2 separate regions of the Homo sapiens genome follow, and region 2 is linked to region 1. The links come from fine-mapping of genetic effects on gene expression. Tissue or cell type: blood mononuclear cells. Region 1 holds a variant in brackets; the other region holds the start of a gene. All regions are shown on one strand. Distances are from middle to middle.

The links. PIP is the estimated chance that this variant, and not a neighbour inherited with it, causes the effect.
Region 2: TNS1 starts here. The variant in region 1 is fine-mapped to the expression of TNS1 in blood mononuclear cells (TOPMed, PIP 0.97).

The regions. Positions count from the first base shown.
Region 1 is chr2:218,031,432-218,039,751 of GRCh38, reverse strand. It overlaps a transcript of TNS1 not described here and a transcript of RUFY4 not described here. Among named protein-coding and RNA genes, the nearest start is that of TNS1, 33 kb to the right of the region's middle. RefSeq lists enhancers at 3,417-3,506, 4,362-4,894, 4,895-5,428, 7,547-8,103 and a silencer at 4,519-4,568. The variant C/G (reference allele first, on the strand shown) is at 4,842.
Region 2 is chr2:217,998,507-218,006,506 of GRCh38, reverse strand. It overlaps TNS1 (tensin 1), which reads left to right and starts at 3,512. Exons shown (of 33, transcript NM_001387777.1): 1 at 3,512-3,667. The coding sequence starts at 3,635. RefSeq lists enhancers at 2,227-2,326, 4,067-4,567, 4,568-5,068.

The sequences.
Region 1 (8,320 bases):
TGGTTAGCAGAGAGACCATAGAGCTGGGGCAGTCCATGAATGGAAGAGCTGGGGTCAAGGTCACTGCTCCCCCCATCTCAGTAATGGAGAACGGCTTCTCTGGGAACCTGCCTTAGCTTCCCCCAGCAGCTAATGTCTGTTCCCTGGCTTGAGTCTTCTGGCACCTTCATCAATTCTCCATTATAACATGAACCCTACTATACTGCAGTGATGTGTTTACAAGTCCACCCTCCCCCAGCCTGTGAGCAAGAATCCTCTTCCATTCATCTTTGTGTTCTCTTTCAGGGACTATAGTAAGTGCTCAATCAACGGTTGTGGAAATAAATAATGGGAGACATTTCTACTGTGATTCATGGACCATGTGTCACCACCACAATTCATTGTCTATTGCTTTTGGTCACACACTCATACCACAGGTATGCCCGAACACACAGCCCACCTGGTCTGCCTGCCATTGTTCCTTCCCAACCATCCTCTAATGGTAGTGTAAATCTTGCCCTACCACAAATGTCAAATTTATCATGCCACAGATGCCTACAATTCTGCCACTGGCAAGCCTATTTTTAAAGGTAGATCATACTCTCCTGCTGGGTTCTCTTTTCATGTATAAATAGTGACAGGAAGTTTAAAGAGACAGTAGCCACTCTCAGTTTGCTTTTACCGATGTTGGTTTATCTTGCTGTGATGCCCCTTCCTTACTCACCGATAGAACCTCCATTGGATGAGGATGGTCTAAACCAGTTATGCAACCGATTGCCCACTCTCCCAGACTTCTTTACACCTAGTGGTGGCCAAGGATATGATTTTTGCTAATGAAGGTCAAGGAGAAGACTGCTGCAAGCTCTGGGAAAGCCCTCGCTTTTCCTACCAAAGAGAAAGAAAGACACTGCTTGGCACCCTCTCTCCCTTTTCTTTCCTTTTGCTTGTGACTGCTAGAGCTGCAGCAACCATCATGGGGCCATGAGGAAAAGGGCAAATGAATCGGAAAGAGGGTAGTCAGCCTTGGAAGTTACTGAGCCCCCAACCAACATTAGCAAATGTTATGTGTAAAATAATACCACCAAAAACCCCTCACCCGCTATGTTTTTAAGCCACTGGGAGTCAGATTTTTGTTACTAGCCGCTGAGGGCACTCTTCACTGATAACATGATCATCTAATTTGGGGTCTTCCAAACTTCCATCATCTCTAAACCACCTTTCACATTTTGGCCATGTCTGCTGAAGTGTAATATTCTTTAAATCAATTCACTTTTGTTAATTTAATTTAAAATGAATATGTAATGATTAAAATGAAAACAGATTCACCATGAATCACCCAAAACTGTGCATTTTTACTGATGGAGCACTTTGCAAAAGCAAACTCAGCTCTGTCTATGTCTCTGATGCCCAAATTTCCTTCTTAGTTGCATCATCATAATAAACACAAATAAGATGTTTAACTATGGCCATTTCAAGACATATTGTCCACAAATAATTGCTTTTTTTTCTGGTGTTTTTCTGAAAACTTTTTTTTTTATTCAAGCAGCTGTAATTCTAAGGTGTTATGTGTTCAAGGAGATTCATGGAAAGGACTCTGATAACTTTCATGGAAAGGTTTTTGATAACTTTAAGATCATACCATTGGACTGGGTAAGAATTTCCATAACTCTAAGGAAGAGACTGACGCTATCATGAAACTTAACCAAGATCAAGAAGAACAAAGTAATTACATGAGGTTAAATGAACTGAGGAGGATAATGTTTTTTATGAATTTTTATTTGAAACTTTGCTGGTTCTTTAAATATTTTGTTTGCCATAGTTTAGGAAACTGTTTTTTTCTTTTAAACTATCTATAGATTACAGAAATTTGGCCAAATGTACTTTTGTGAACAAAAGTGGAAACACTTACTTTTTCTCCACATAGGATCCTTCCAGAATTCAGAAACTATTTGTGAGTATTCTTGTTGGTATGGTAATATAGTGATTTGCTTCTGTTCTATAGGAATCGGTTCTCTTTATAACAGGATATATTGACAGTATTGGGTATATTACTAGGGCATTGACTGGGATGTCATATTTGAAAATGTCCAGAGAAGGAATCTATAGGTATTGCTGGTGAAGTCTGAAGTCTGCCTTGGTTTGGCTTTCTAGCCTCAAGAGGTTTTAAAAAATCCAATTTGAGATTTCCTATCAAAAGTTCCAACAAAGCAAGCTTTAAAAGAAAACCTCTGTGGTCAATTGCTATGTTTGCTGCATTTATTTAATTAGTCAGGCTGTGTTTGATGAGGCTAAACTTATTTTGCAAACAAATTAGTCTTACTTTGATTATCTTTGGTAGAAATGAGAGTGAATGTAGAGAGAAAAATTATGTTTCGGAAGAAAAATTATAGTGTGCCTGTTATTAGATTGTAGCCCTGCTCATTGTTTTTCAGTTTATTATCTTTTTTTTTTTTGAGACTGAGTTTTGCACTATTGCCCAGGCTGGAGTGCAGTGGTGCTATCTCCACTCACTGCAACCTCCGCCTCCTGGGTTCAAGGGATTCTTCTGCCTCAGCCTCCCAAGTAGCTGAGGTTACAGGCGCCTGCCACCACGCCCGGCTAATTTTTTGTATTTTTAGTAGAGATGGGGTTTCACTATGTTGGTCAGGCTGGTCTCGAACTCCTGACCTCAAGTGATCCGCCCGCCTCAGCCTCCCAAAGTGCTGGGATTACAGGCTTGAGCCACTGCACCCAGCCTCAGTTTATTATCTACCTGTAGACTGGACTGGATCTTGATTCCTTCTAGATTCCTCCAATCCAATTTTCTCCCATGGAATTACAAAGAACAAGAACTGCTCTGTTCCTGAAGCCTTATAAGCTGGAGCTGGGCAACTTAGTGTACATTTCAAGGGAAAACCTTCATGCCTGATGTGCGTGCCACACAGAGTTTCACCAAAATACCTGATGCCATAACCAGAGATATTTAAACTGCAAACCAGAGTGAGAAGTTGATGACTTCACGCTGTGGACAGCTTTCCCCAAAACACTGAAGAAGACTCCTCATCGTGGTGAATCTCTTACCTCTCTTAATTTCTCCTTGCTTATGTCTACCCCTTTCACTTGGCAGCATTATGCTGTAATTAGGATTTCACAGCCAGTAGCTTCTGTGGGTAACTTGAGGGAGTGTTGGTTCTGTCACATCAAACCCAAAGTTTTACGTCATCTAAGAGATCCGTTAGGCCACCCAGTGGCTGACTTTAGCAGCATCCTTAACTCAACTGTTGGTTCAAATTGGAACTGTGGTCCCTTTTATAGAGTTAGACTTCTAGACTCACTCGTTCTCACCCCCTGTTTTAATTTAACCCAGTCGTAGGATGCTAGATAATGTGATTCCTTGTGACTTGGACTGTGAGCCCAGGAAGAACCCTGAGTCTCACTGCCCAACTCTCTCCTTACACAAAGGAGGATGCAGAGCCTCCTTTGTGTAAAGTCCAGAGAGGGAAAGACTTATATCTGGCCACACAGCAAGGGAAAATCCCAGCTCTATTTTGTAGGCCAGGGTGTGAAGATGATGGTGTGGCCTCCACCGATTGAGCAGTCCCTGGGCGACGACACTGTGCTAATTGTTTAATATCTTTGTCCCATTCAATCCCCACATAACCCTGGGAGGCTAGAGGGGAACCTGGGGCACAGAGAGGGTAAGTCTTTTATCCAGCATCACAGAGGTTCCCAGGATTTGAACTCAGGTGTGTGTGCCCACAGGGCCTGTGTTCTGGGCCCTGACTTGGTGTGAGCAGCCCCGTGAGGGTTCATGCCATGTGGACACTAGGCTGGGAGTGTCCCCATGTTCCCCATGGAGGGCCCCCAGCCTCACCCGGGTACTCATCCTCCTCGAGACACCCACTCATCTTTTCCTGGGCCCCAGCTGAATGGAAATGTGTGTTCTTTGAGGAGAGGTTGCAGAAGTAAAGCGCGGCCCCAAGGCTGGAGCTGAGCAGATGCTGCGTGTGTGGGGGGAGCAGGGTGCCTGGTTTTAATACTGCCTCTCTCCTGGGGGATCTCATCCTCTTCTCCTCCCAATGGATCCTGGGGCCCAGACGGGGACACTGTGGCCCTGAGAGCAGGTGGCCTTATTCTGAGATCCTAGAGTCAAGACCAGGCATGGAGCGGAAAACCCAGGTGTCCTGCCTCCCGGGCTGTGGCTGCTGGAGTTTGGGGTGGCGTGGCAGTGGTACAGCAGTGGGACACAGTGGAGGGAAGGGGAGAGGGAAACGGAGGTAAATGAGGGAGGTGGCTGGGGCATGGGATTCAGGGAGGACGGGGTCAGGAGCCCAGAGACCTGGGTCTCCATCCTGGCCTGGCTACACACTCACTGTGTGATCTCGGGCAAATCACTCACCTTCCTTGAGCCTCAGTTTCCCCACCTGTAGACCAAAGATTGGACTGATGGTCTCGGCAGCCCCTTCCAGCCCAGATCCTGTGTGAAATCCATGAACGGCTCCATGTGTCTCCTCCTCTCCCTCGTCTCTGCCAGGCATTTTCCTCCCCTGGCTCCTGGCATCACACTCCTTCTATCCCCGTAAGTTCCAGGGGTCTCCCTGCTACTCACCCAGGAGAGCCTGGCTGGCTGGGGCACGACAGCGCGGCTCTGCTGCCAGAGTCCGTCCCTAGTGACTGCGCAGGGAAGAAGTGGTAGAGGCAGGATCCAGGGCGCTGGGGCAGAATGGTGAGATGGGGGATGGGTCCTCTCAGGCCCACCTGGGGTAGAGTCACCTGTTGGCCAAATGGGGGCTGATCCATTGTGGTAGCTGGGACTGCTGCTAGTTTCCTTTTCGTTTTCAGCACCTGCTCTTGCTTTTCTTCCTTCTCGCCACCAGGGGGCA[C/G]AGGGAGGCCATGGAGCTCCGCAGCTGCTATTCCTGTGGTTGTCTCTTCCGTGTCGCTTGGTTGGGCTGTGAGGCAGCGCTCCAGAGTGGGGAGGGGAGGTCGAGGGCCCCACCACGCTCCTCCTTCCTGTCTCCACCTCAGTCAGCTGAGGCGGTCCCCCTGAGTGCTGGTCATCAGTGCCGACCCCCCAGGCCTGATCCCATTCCCAAAAGGATGGATGTGAGACCACCAGTGAGATCCTGTGCGCAGCAATGGGCCGGGCGGGTTTCCCCGGTGGGCTGGGGTCCCCCACCCTGGCTGTGCTCTGCCTCCTTGAGCCTGGGGTCTTTCCATGCCGGGTCCTCGTTTCTCCAGGCTCGGCTGCTCCAGGGGCTAGTATTAGGGAAGTGGAGCAGGGGCCTGGGAGGACGGCTGTTTTCACAAACCCCAGGAACCGCATCTAAAAACCAGCACAACGGATGCCCGAGGGTTTCTATCCTCGGCTCCGTCCTGCACCTATATCCCCCATGCGGAGGCTGCTTCCCCCATCTCTGTCCCTCATCTCTGCCTCTTCCTCATTGTCTGCCTTTATCTTCTCCCTGTCCCTCTGTCACGTTCTTGGTGTGTTTCTCACCTTGCCCCCCAAGTCAGACTGTCTGAAGTCCCTGTCCCAAGGACTCCACCACTGCCGCCCTCCCTTCTCCCCTCCCTGAGGTGGGCTTCCTCACTGGCTGTGTTCGGGACCTGTATTGCAGACCCTTATCAGGCCCCACAGTGGGGGCTCCTGTCGCTGCTGGACATAAAGGCAGGGACTCTGTCGGGGCCAGGCTGGGGTCGTTGCTGCTCGCCTGCCAATGTCGCAGGCGCTCTGGGCTGAGCTGTCGCAAGGGCTGGGGGCGGGCCGGCTTCTGGGGCTCCCGCGTCTCCGCCCCTGCCCGCCGGGGCGCCAGGCCGGATGGGCTGCACTGTGAGCCTGGTGTGCTGCGAAGAGCTGCGGCCCGGACCACTCTGCGGTCCCCAGCCCCCGGGGAGTCCCTGGGTCTCGGCGCGGGCTGAGTGCTGGGAGTCCGGGGGTTTGGCCTGTGCAGAGAGAAGGCAGCTACCGCTTCAGGTAGGGGCTGCGGGAATGGGTGAGGGACGACGCCCCGAGTCGGGAGCTGGCGGTTGGCAGAGCCCAGGGCACCTGACACAGGTTAAGTAGCCAGCCCAGGACGGTGCTAGTCTGCTTGGGAAGTGCGGCAAGGCAGGTGGACCAAGGGGGAGGAAGGACCACGACCGGGTGAAGGGGCCTCCAGTTGGGTAGAGGGCTCCCCTGGGTCTCTTGTGCCCTTGGGAGGAGGGTGATATAGGACCTGACCCCTAGAAGGGCAAATAGGTTGGGTGAGGTTGGTTTAGGAGTCACCCAGGAGGGGCAGGCCTGGAGTGCTGGGGCAAGGTAGGGAAAGAGTTAATCTTCCTCGAGCTGGACCAAGGGGCAGCTCTGGCAGTGTCCCTTCATTTAGGAGGACTCTGGAGTTAGGAGGGTGGGGGCCCCACTGGAGCAAGGACTTCCCCAGGATGGTGGGGACAGGCTGGCCTCTCACCCCTGCCTTCTCTGTGCTGGGTAAGTCTCAGAGACTAGCAAGTGGGGAGCTGACCTGGCAGTGGGGACAGGTCTGAGCTGGGAGGCAGGTGTCTGCTCTGGAGGAGTCTGCCAGGGAACCATCAGGCCTGGGATAGGTGTGGTGCTGGTTTCTTCCTGGGAGAGTAGGAGGAGGTGTTTGGGGTCACCAGGGATGGGTAACTCCTCTCTAGGTCCCTGTGACCTCAGGACTCGCTGTTGGTGGGTCTTCTTTCTTCACCCTGTGTCCCTGCCTCCCCACCTCCCACACAGCCAGCTTTGACATGGGGCAGGTGCCTGTTGGGCCAGGTAAAGGTGGGCAGGGACAGGGACAGGGAGTGGGGCTGTGATGGAGGGAGGAGCCGGGGCTCTGGAGGTGGATGATCAAGGGGAGAAAGAGGGGAGGGTGTGTGTGCCGGTGTGTGACAGTGGCAGGGAGAGGGATGGGGACGAGTGTCTGCATCAGATGAGCTGGTTTCTAAGCGGCCTCTGGAGAGAGCCTGGAGCTCGCCTGTGACTCCCTCCCTCCTCTGTCTGTGGGGATCAAGCTCCATCCCAGCTGCTGTGCCCTGACTCTGGCTCCAGTGAGGGTTGCTGCTGCTCGGGGCTCCCCCCTTCAGGGGTTTAGGGAAGAGCAGCCTGCACCCATCACCTGGGGCCTCACTAGAGGAGGGGTGATACCCTCGTTCTTGGGGCAGATAAACATCTCCTGGGTGCTGATCCCCTCAAAAGCCAAGAGTCAGTGGCTACCCAGACATCTGGGCTGCCTGCCAGGGCGCACCCACTGCCAGTCCTGCTGCAGACACACCCCCCATTCCTGCCCCAGGCCCTGCCGTAGGCCCAGCATCTCTCTTTGACCACAGCCTGAGCTCCTGCTGCCTGTGTCCACACCCAGCCTCGCTATTCTCCTGTCCCCTCAGCACAGCCCTCTCCTACCCAGGCCACATCGCCCCCTTCCCCTGTCATGCTGCCTCCTCCTCCACAAGCAGGCTGTCCTCCTCCTTCTCCTGGACTGCCTTGTCCCCCAGGCCCCATTGCCCACTCCTCTTTCTCCCCTGGCCAGCATTTGGCTCCTGCTCCTCCCCTTGGCTTTGAGAGGGTGCATGCCTTGGCTCTTAAGCCTCCAAGTCCAGCTCTGGGTTGTCAGTGCCTGCAGCTGTGGGCCCTGCCCCTCCCAGGTGGCCTCTCTAGGTCCCACAACTGCCCTACACCCTGAGCCCTCCTATGGTCCCACATGTCAGCCTCAGGAGCAAGAGGTTGGGGCTTGGCACCCTCCTGAGTCCTCCAGCCAAGCCTTCTGGGTGCCAAGGGGCCTGGCGGGCATCTCCGGGTGCCAGTCGTGCCTCCTTGCTCTCTGCTGTATCCCAGGACAAGTGGGTGCTTGTGGATGGGGCGGGAGCAGTGGGGAGGAGACTCCTGGCTGCTGTTGCCTCTTCCGTTTCTGCAGTCAGCTCTTCTGGGCTCTGCTTCTTTCAGCCCGGAGAACTACTGAGGTTAGACGTTCTCCTGGGGCCTGGTCCTGCAGCCTCCCCTGCATTCCTGTTGTGGGGCCTGCAACCCTTTTGGAAGTTCTAGGATCTGGTCTGACTCCCTCCCCCATGGGTTGGATGACCTCCTCTTCCTCTCTTTCTTGTTATGTAGAATCAGAGACCCCAGAGCTGAAAAGGATCTTAGTGCTTCTGAGCCTTTTGAGGACACAGATCCCTTTGAGAATCTGATGTAACCTATGGGTGCTCTTGCTAGGGAGAAGGTGCACACACACACAGACACACACATACACTCATACACACAGGCACACACACACTCACACAAGACACACTCATACACACAGACTTGCTCACACACAACACACACTCATACACTCACACACACAGACATGCTCATACACACATGCACACA
Region 2 (8,000 bases), 33 kb after region 1:
TGGTGACAAAGGAAAGGCTTAACGCCCTGGTAGGAGAGGGGTGGACATCAGTAAGAATATTTTGGTGGACAAGAGTCAAAGGAAAGGAAGAGTGAATTGGATGGGGCTGGGGCCTTGGCCTGGGAAACTCGTGTCATCGCAGAAGGTGGAGCTGGAAGGGACCTTGGAGGCCATCAGTCCTGTTATTCTACAGGTAAAGGAAACTGAGGCCCAGGGAGGGGCCTGCCAGGCTCAGGCTCTAAGGCCATTAGCTCATTCCTGACCACACTCACCCTTCCTTCTGCCTTGGCTCCACCCTCCTCCAGCCCCAGGGCCAGCACCACAGCCCACAGACCTGACTCTGTTTCTTCAGCTGGCTGCTGAGCAGGGGGCTGGAGGGATGAGCGGAGGGAGGTCTCCGCATGCAGCGGGAAGGCAGAAATGGGGATGGCACAGGGTTGGGGCTGGGTTCTGAGGCTTCTGGGATGCCAGTGTAGAGCCCCAGCCAGTCCTCCAGTGTGTACTCCATGTCTGCTGTGTGTGAGACAGGGGTCTGGGCACAGGGTGGGGATCCCAAGATGAATGAAACCATCCAGGCCTGCGGAGAGTCTGCAGCTGGCTAGAGCTTGGGAATGGGGCATTGGCAGCAGGCAGAGGTGGCTGCAGATAGGGTGGCACTGAAATTGTGGGCAAAAGTGTACAGGCAGGGCTGCCTGAGGCCCTTTTGAAGGGAAAAGAAGGAAGGTTTGGGAAGGAGGCAGTGAATGCTTACAGTAGGAAAATATGTTAGGATCCATTGACTAATTGATTGAGTGATTGAGTCATTCTTCAACCATGTCTGGTGCCTGCTGTATGCCAGGCTCTGGGGATACAAAACACAGGACACGTCCTTGCCCGTGTGTGGGTTGGGGTGGAGACACCAGGCTGTGAAGGAGGAATAAAGGCTGACAAGCCTGGAACAGGGTCATTACACACAGTTAGAGACACCTCAGTCGGCAGAGTTTAACATTCAACAGGGAAAATGGTGGTTAATTAGCAGGAAGGACATCTTGATGATAAGCGATTAATATACAGGAGAGACCCCATAGGCTTGGAGAAGAGGGATGGGGGTATTCTGGAGGGAGGGTTTCTCCAAGGGAACCCCCAGCACTAGGGTCCCCTACTTCCATTCACAGTCCTAGCTGAGGAGTCTGGGGAAGCAGCAGGGCCTCCTCGGGCTGTGTAGGAGGCCAGACAAGTTGGTGTCACTGTGACTTGGTTTTTGGTTTGATTTTCCAGCATTTCTGGGAAGCCCCAAGGTGACTTCTCAGAACTCCAGAGAAAGCTGCCTGGAGGCGTCTTCAGTGACGCCAGCAGTGAAGGGCTGTGGGAGCAGGCAGCGGGGAGCTTGGTGTGAGTGGGCACTGGGATGTCAGGGCTTAGCTGGCTGAAGGCTTGAACTTGTCAGGGGACAAGGGCAGCCTGGCAGAGCTGGTGATAGTGGCTGAGGAGGGGCTCAGGGGCTCTCAGAGAGGCCTCCTGAAGACCACTCCCCTTTGCTTGCCTGGTGCTCCAGCCAGGGGAGACGGGAGGGTTTGCAGAGGTTTCTGTCTATGGACATCCCCAGCTGTGACTGCAGGGCCAACTGCATGTGGAACACTGGTTCATTTCAGCGTTGGCTAAAATGTCAGTGAAGCCCCAGGAGGCTTAGAGTAGGGGGTCCAGAGGGACATTGTGATCCTGGCAGGGAAGGACACTAGAGGCAGGATCTTTCCCAGCCCCAGAGCTCTGGAGGACTTGGAGAAGTATGGAGAGAGGACCCTGACTCCTCTACCGGAACAAAGACTCTTCACTCAGGTACCTGCTTTAGGAAGGGCTGGAAATTGACACTTCACTTCAGTGTCCTCCCCTGACTTCTCAGAACCACCAAACAATAGATGGTTAGTCCCTTGTGCTGTGGACAACCTGTGTATCTGAATACTGCAGTCTTTTTTTCAGATGAAGAGTCAGTGTTTCCCCTTCATTCTGGGGTTTCCCAGGTAGATGTCTTGGGTGGTCCCTGGGCTGGGAGTTGGCACAAGTGGCTGGGCAGATCCCTGTGAAAGAGGAGGCTGGTAGTTGCACGGTATGTGGTGCTGACAGACAGCGGCATGGCATGGCCTTGGGTGAGTGGGGGGGGGAGGCAGGGGATCTGTAACCCTTCGTGCATGTGGCCCCAGGGCATGTATAGCACAGTGTGCATAGGAGGCCAGGCAAGAGAACTTTTCTTGCTAAGTGACTCAGTCTAGGAACGAGGTCTCCAAGTGCCTACTCTGGGAGGGCTCTTATGTGTTGACGTGAGTTGGACTGTGTCCTTGTGTGTGTGTGTGTCCACAGGAGGGTGTGGGGCTGAGCCCTCCCTCCTTCTCCTGGACAGCTCCAAAGAACAGAGCGGGTGATTCACTGGCCCCCACCCACCCTCAGTTGGTCCAGCCAAGGCCAGAGCTCAAAGAGGAAGGGTTTTTTTTGGAGGGGAACGTGGTGGTTCCAGACAATGAAGGCCTGGGGCAGACTTTGCTGGATTCCCCCTTAGTGCTCCGTGGGAATACTTTTGGGTTTTGACCCAGCCTCCTTTCCACCCTCTAGACCCCCAACAATTGTCCCTGGGCAGAGGTGGGGGCGAGGGGAGGGGAGGGCTGGTGGGCAGGGGACACTGAGGGGAAGAAATAGGCCTGTGGAATGGTGGGAGGGGAGAACTGGGCCCAGGGAGGGGGAGAGGGGAGGAGGGGGAGGAAGTGGGGAAATGCAAACCAAATGTTGGCCCCGGGTACAGTCAAGAAAAACACACTCTCGCGGGAGCCTGGAGCGGGGCTCCCTTTCAGAAGGGCAGGAAAGGCTGGGACAGATGTTTGCAGGAAAGAAAGAAAGAAGGGGGAAAAAAAAAGAAATAGGAAAAAAATTGGAATGAAACCCACAGCCTGGGGGCAGGGCCATTCTTCCCCAGTCTCGGGCCCTATTTCTTCTGTGTTAAGGCCTGTCCTGGGCTCTGAGCTTGGCGCGTGGGCACCAGAGTCTGTCCCAGTCTGTGTGTGCAAATGCATGTGTGTTCCGAGGAGGCCAGGAAGGCAGGCACGGGTACTCAGAGAAGGGGAGGGGCCAAGGCACCCTGAGTGTGCTGATTGTGTGGGCCTGGGGCTGTCTGTTCATCCATCAGTGGTCTGGAGGGTTCCAGGAGTGAAGGCCCCCAGGCTGGTTTGCCAGGGGCGGGGGTCTGCAGTGAGGAGGGAGGACTCCAGGCCTACCAGCACCAGATCAGAAGACTGAGGAGCCTTGGTGGCACACAGGGGTTGTGTGTCCGGGGGTGGGGGGCACGGCCTGGGGGGGCCCTGCCTCTGGTAGCTTTCCCTTTTCCCTGTCCCCTTTACACCCCCTGCAAAGCAGGGTTCCTGACCCTCAAGGCCACCGGTGGAGCCTGGGAGGAGGGAGGAGAGAGGAGGCTGGGACGAGGGGTGGAGTGGGGGGAGGAGGAGGAGGAGGGAGGGTGAGCTGGAGGCAGCAGGGCGAGAGGCCCAGCAGATGCTGGCGGAGCCGGAGCAGCCGCGGACTCAGAGAGCCCTTCTGCCAGCGCCGCGGGGACTCTAGCTTCAGGGGCTCTTCACAGGCCCTGGGCGTGCCTCAGTGACGGGACCCAGCAAAGATGACGTGGATCTGTCTGTCCTGCATGCTCTGGGTAGGTCTGGCTGCTTTAGCTGCGACGTTACTCTTCCTCAAACCCCCCGCCCCCCACCGGCCCCTGCCACCTTATCCTTTTGCTGAGAGCCCGGGGTCGGGGGGTGTCAGTCTTGAAGGAGGGGCCTTTCTGTCTCTGACCTACAGAAGGACAGACTGACTTGAGCAACCCTCAGCCGGAAGACTTTCCCCACCAACAGGGCCCAGGCCCAGGGTCCCGGGTCAGTACATCCCCTGCCCCACCCCCCCACCCCCCAATGGAGTCCCAGAGCTGTAAGTGGAAGGAGGCCACAGAGAAGTTTGCTTCTCTTTAGAGCCTTTCCTCCCGACTTGCATCCTACAATGGGGTGAAAATTCTTCACCGCCCCCCCTCAGTTGCTGAGCCCAAGATCTTGAGGAGGAGGCAGTGGTGGGGCTGGGGAGCAAAGAATAGTAGTCCAAAATATTAAGTCTGGAAGAGCTGGGCTGTGGGAGAATTCTCAGAGTCCATCCCTTTTATTCCTTCTACACCCAGTTTCAGCTTCCACCCACTGCCATCCCTTCCTCCACAGCCCTCCCCTGCTACCAAGACCTCTCCATCCTGGAGGAGGGAGCCATGGCCCGCTCTTCCCCCTTTCTCTCTTGGCTCCAGGTTCAGGGAGGTGGGTTTCAGGATGGGGATGCCAGGGGGGCCAGCAGAGAGGCCTGGGGGCCACGTGGTGAAGGTTAAAAGTCTTAAGGCCAGACCTGGGCTGAGGCTCCTGGGTAAAGGGGGATGGGAGAGGGCTGCCTGCTGCAGAAGGGCTGGGGGTCAGAGGAGGAGAGGACCCCTTCCTCAGAGGGGCTCCTGTGGGGCTGTCTTGGCCAGGCAAAGGCATGCATGGGGTCAGGAGGGTGAGGAAGTCGTCCCTGGCTGAGGTTACTGTTGGGCTCTGAGAGAGTGATGGCTGGTTTGGGGGAGGGGGCTTCAGGGCTGTGATCCAGATGTGGCCTTTCCTGTCCCTTTCCTTGTTCTGGCCAGTCCTCGGGAGGGCCCTCTTGGCCCAGGCAAGCCCATGCTGGGGGCAGTTGTGGGAACACAAACTCGGGCAGCCAGGTGTCCTCTGGGCAAAGAAAGAAAGGGTGGGGGAGGGGGCCTGGAATGAGGCGGTTTGGGTGGCATGTTGGGCTGGGGTGCTGGGATGGATTGGATTAATAGATTGAGAGTGACTGGGGAGGCCTGCACACAGGATGCATTTGTGGTTTACTGGGCTGGTGTTGACATCTGGGAAATGGGAGCCTTGGCCAGGTTCGTCTCTGTGCTGAGGACAGAGGTAGGCAGGAGGGAGCTCTGCAGCAAGAAGGATGGCAGGTAGACGTCCAGGGGTGACACAAGAAGGATGGCAGGTAGACCTCCAGGGGTGACGAGCTGCTGTGACTGGAGAGAGGGCTCTATAGATCCCTTCAGCTGACTGATACTGGGAAAAGTGCCTCATCCTGGTGAGCCTCTGCTTTCCCGTTGGTGAAATGAGGATTGCAGAGAAACAGGGTACAGAGAGGTAGGGATGAAATTTTGTATCCAATTCCCCAGGGCAGTGCCTGGCAGGTAGAGTGCCCTATGGGTGTTATACCCTCCCTGAGAGTAAGGGGAAGAGTCTGGGGACCAAGGCAGCTGTGAGTGCTGCTTCCTTGAGTGTCTTTATTTTTATTTATTCATTTTTTTTTTAATTGAGATGGAGTCTCACTCTGTCACCCAGGCTGGAGTGCAATGGCATGATCTTGGCTCACTATAACCTCTACCTCCTGGGTCCAAGCAATTCTCCTGCCTCAGCCTCCCGAGTAGCTGGGACTACAAGTGCGTGCCAACATGTCCAGCTAATTTTTTATATTTTTAGTAGAGATGGGGTTTCATCGTGTTGGCCAGGCTGGCCTCGAACTCCTGACCTCAAGTGATCCTCCCGTCTCAGCCTCCCAAAGTGCTGGGATTATAGGTGTGAGCCACTGCGCCTGGCCTTGAGTGTCTTTAAGACTAGAAAAGCCTGTGTCCCTCCCCTGTCTCCTTTTCCTCTCCTCTCCTAGTCCCCATCCTTTCTAGGCTGGCTGTGATGCCCATGGCCAGGATGGGCCAGAGACTGGGGCAGTAGGGACTGGACAGAGGAAGCAGTCCTGGCACCAGATAGGACTAGGCTCAAACCCTATTTCCATCGTTTGGTATGGGCAGGCTTGGTAAAGCAGTTCCCTTCATGAGCCTCAATTTCTTGATCTGTAAAGTGCAGAGAATAATATACTCCTTGTATGGCTAGGGTGGGGAAAGAGACAATAGATATCAAAAGATCAGGTATGTAGGCATGCAGTAGGTGCTCAGCAAATGCTGGCCCCTTTCCCACTCCACAGTCTCCTGCCTGGTTCTTGGGATCCTCTGTATCCCAGACCTGATGCTGGGGGAGGATCTCCCTGGGAATGGTGTCATGGGACAGGGCTCTACTCCTTGGGCTCTACTCCTGGGCTGACTGCCCAGGGACTCTGACCAGCTACTCTGAGGCCAGGAAGTGACTGAGATAGTTCTTGTGCCCTAGAGTGAGTGCTTGCATCTATTGGTTCACATGTTCCTGTATGGGGAAAGCTGCAATTGTGTCATCTAAGAAGTAATATATCTGTAGTGCATAGTTTTAACAAGTCCTAGGAATAAAAATCACTTTATTAGCTGAGGAGCAGAGCTATTTATTATGCATAACTTGATTTTCTCATCAAGTGCTCCCATTTGCTATTACATATTCAAGTACGGTTTATTTAGAAAATAATTGCATGCCTAGCAATTGAGGCTTTTTGATGTTGTGCTGGAGGAGTTAGAGGTGGAGGCCCTTCCTTCCAGAGGGACTCACTGGTCCTCAGGAACTGGGAAGGGGCTCAGGGTGAGGCTGAAAGAGCCACCAGGCAGGGGCTGGGGGTCAAGTGCAGCTTTGGCTCTGCCCTGAGCCAGCTAAGTGGTCTCAAGCTGGTCACTCGACTTTTCTGGACCTCACTGAAATGTGGGCTCTATTCTCTAAGGCCACATCCAGCTGCAGACGATGATGTATTTTGTTTCCTGGAGTTGGTGTCCTGCCCAGTGCTAAGCACACATTTTTGACAGAAGGGTCCTCATGAGCTCTGGATTCCTTGTGCACAATTCCGGTCATGCAGACATCAATCTGACTCTTTGGTCCTGAACTCGTTCTCTCTAGTTTGGTTGACCTGTAAGGGCCTCCTGACTGTGGGTTTGGGAGGTAGGCTGGGCTGCATGAGAATCACCAGGGTCTGAAATAAGACTCTCCTTTTGCAAAGTTTTGCAAAGTAATGTGTGAGGCACAAAATTGGGAAGAGCACTGCCCTTTTATTCTGCAGTGTTGAAAGGAAGTGTAGCATGCTGGCCGAGAGTGCAATGCCTGGGCTGGATCCCGGGCCTGTCACTTGACAGCTGTGTGACCATAGGCAAGTAGTTTCACATCTCTGTGCTTTGGTTTCCCCACCTACCTATAGGGTTGTTCGGTTTTGAATGAGCTAATCCACACATACATTTAGAAAAGTGTCTCTCACATGTAAGAGCTCAAGAAATGTTAGTGCTTCTTGTAGGATGGCACATTTTCAAGGCTACCCAGCAAGTCAGAGTCAAGACTCCAACCCCATCTGCTGCATCCTCTGCCAGGCTTCTCCATTCTGGGAATGCTTTGGGGCAGGACATGTGGGGTCCGTGGGAATCAAGCCCTGAGAATGACGCATGAGCCCTAAGTCAGCGAAGAGGACTGTGGCGGGCAGCCCAGGGTCAGGGCATGGTGTTGGGGAGGTCGTGTGATGGAAGAAGCATCCCATCATTTGGCTTTCTAACCACACCCCCCACGCAGCTTTCCATCCTTTTCACGGATTATTATGGAGGGCCTGCTCTCTTCAAGCTGCTTGCACATACTGGCACATGATTGCAAGCAGGATGGGTGTTACCAAGAGGGAACCTCTGGGGGATGTAAGGGGGACCTAACCTGGACTGTAGGGAGAAGGTGTCAGGAAAGACTCCTCGGGAGGTGAATTTTAAACTAGATCTAAAGATGAATCTGGCCAGGCACAGTGGTCACACCTGTGATCCCAGCACTTTGGGAGGCCAAGGAGGGAGGATTTCCTGAGCCTAGAAGTTCAAGACTGGCCCGAGCAACATAGTAAGACCATGTCTGTACGAAAAATAAATAAGTTATCTGGGCATGGTGGTATGCGCTGGTAGTCCCAGCTACTTGGAGGCTGAGGTGGAAGGATCACTTGAGCCCTGGAGGTCAAGGCTATAGCGAGCTATGATTACACCACTGCACTCCAGCCCAGGCGACAGAGCAAGGCCCAGGGCCATGGAGGAAAGG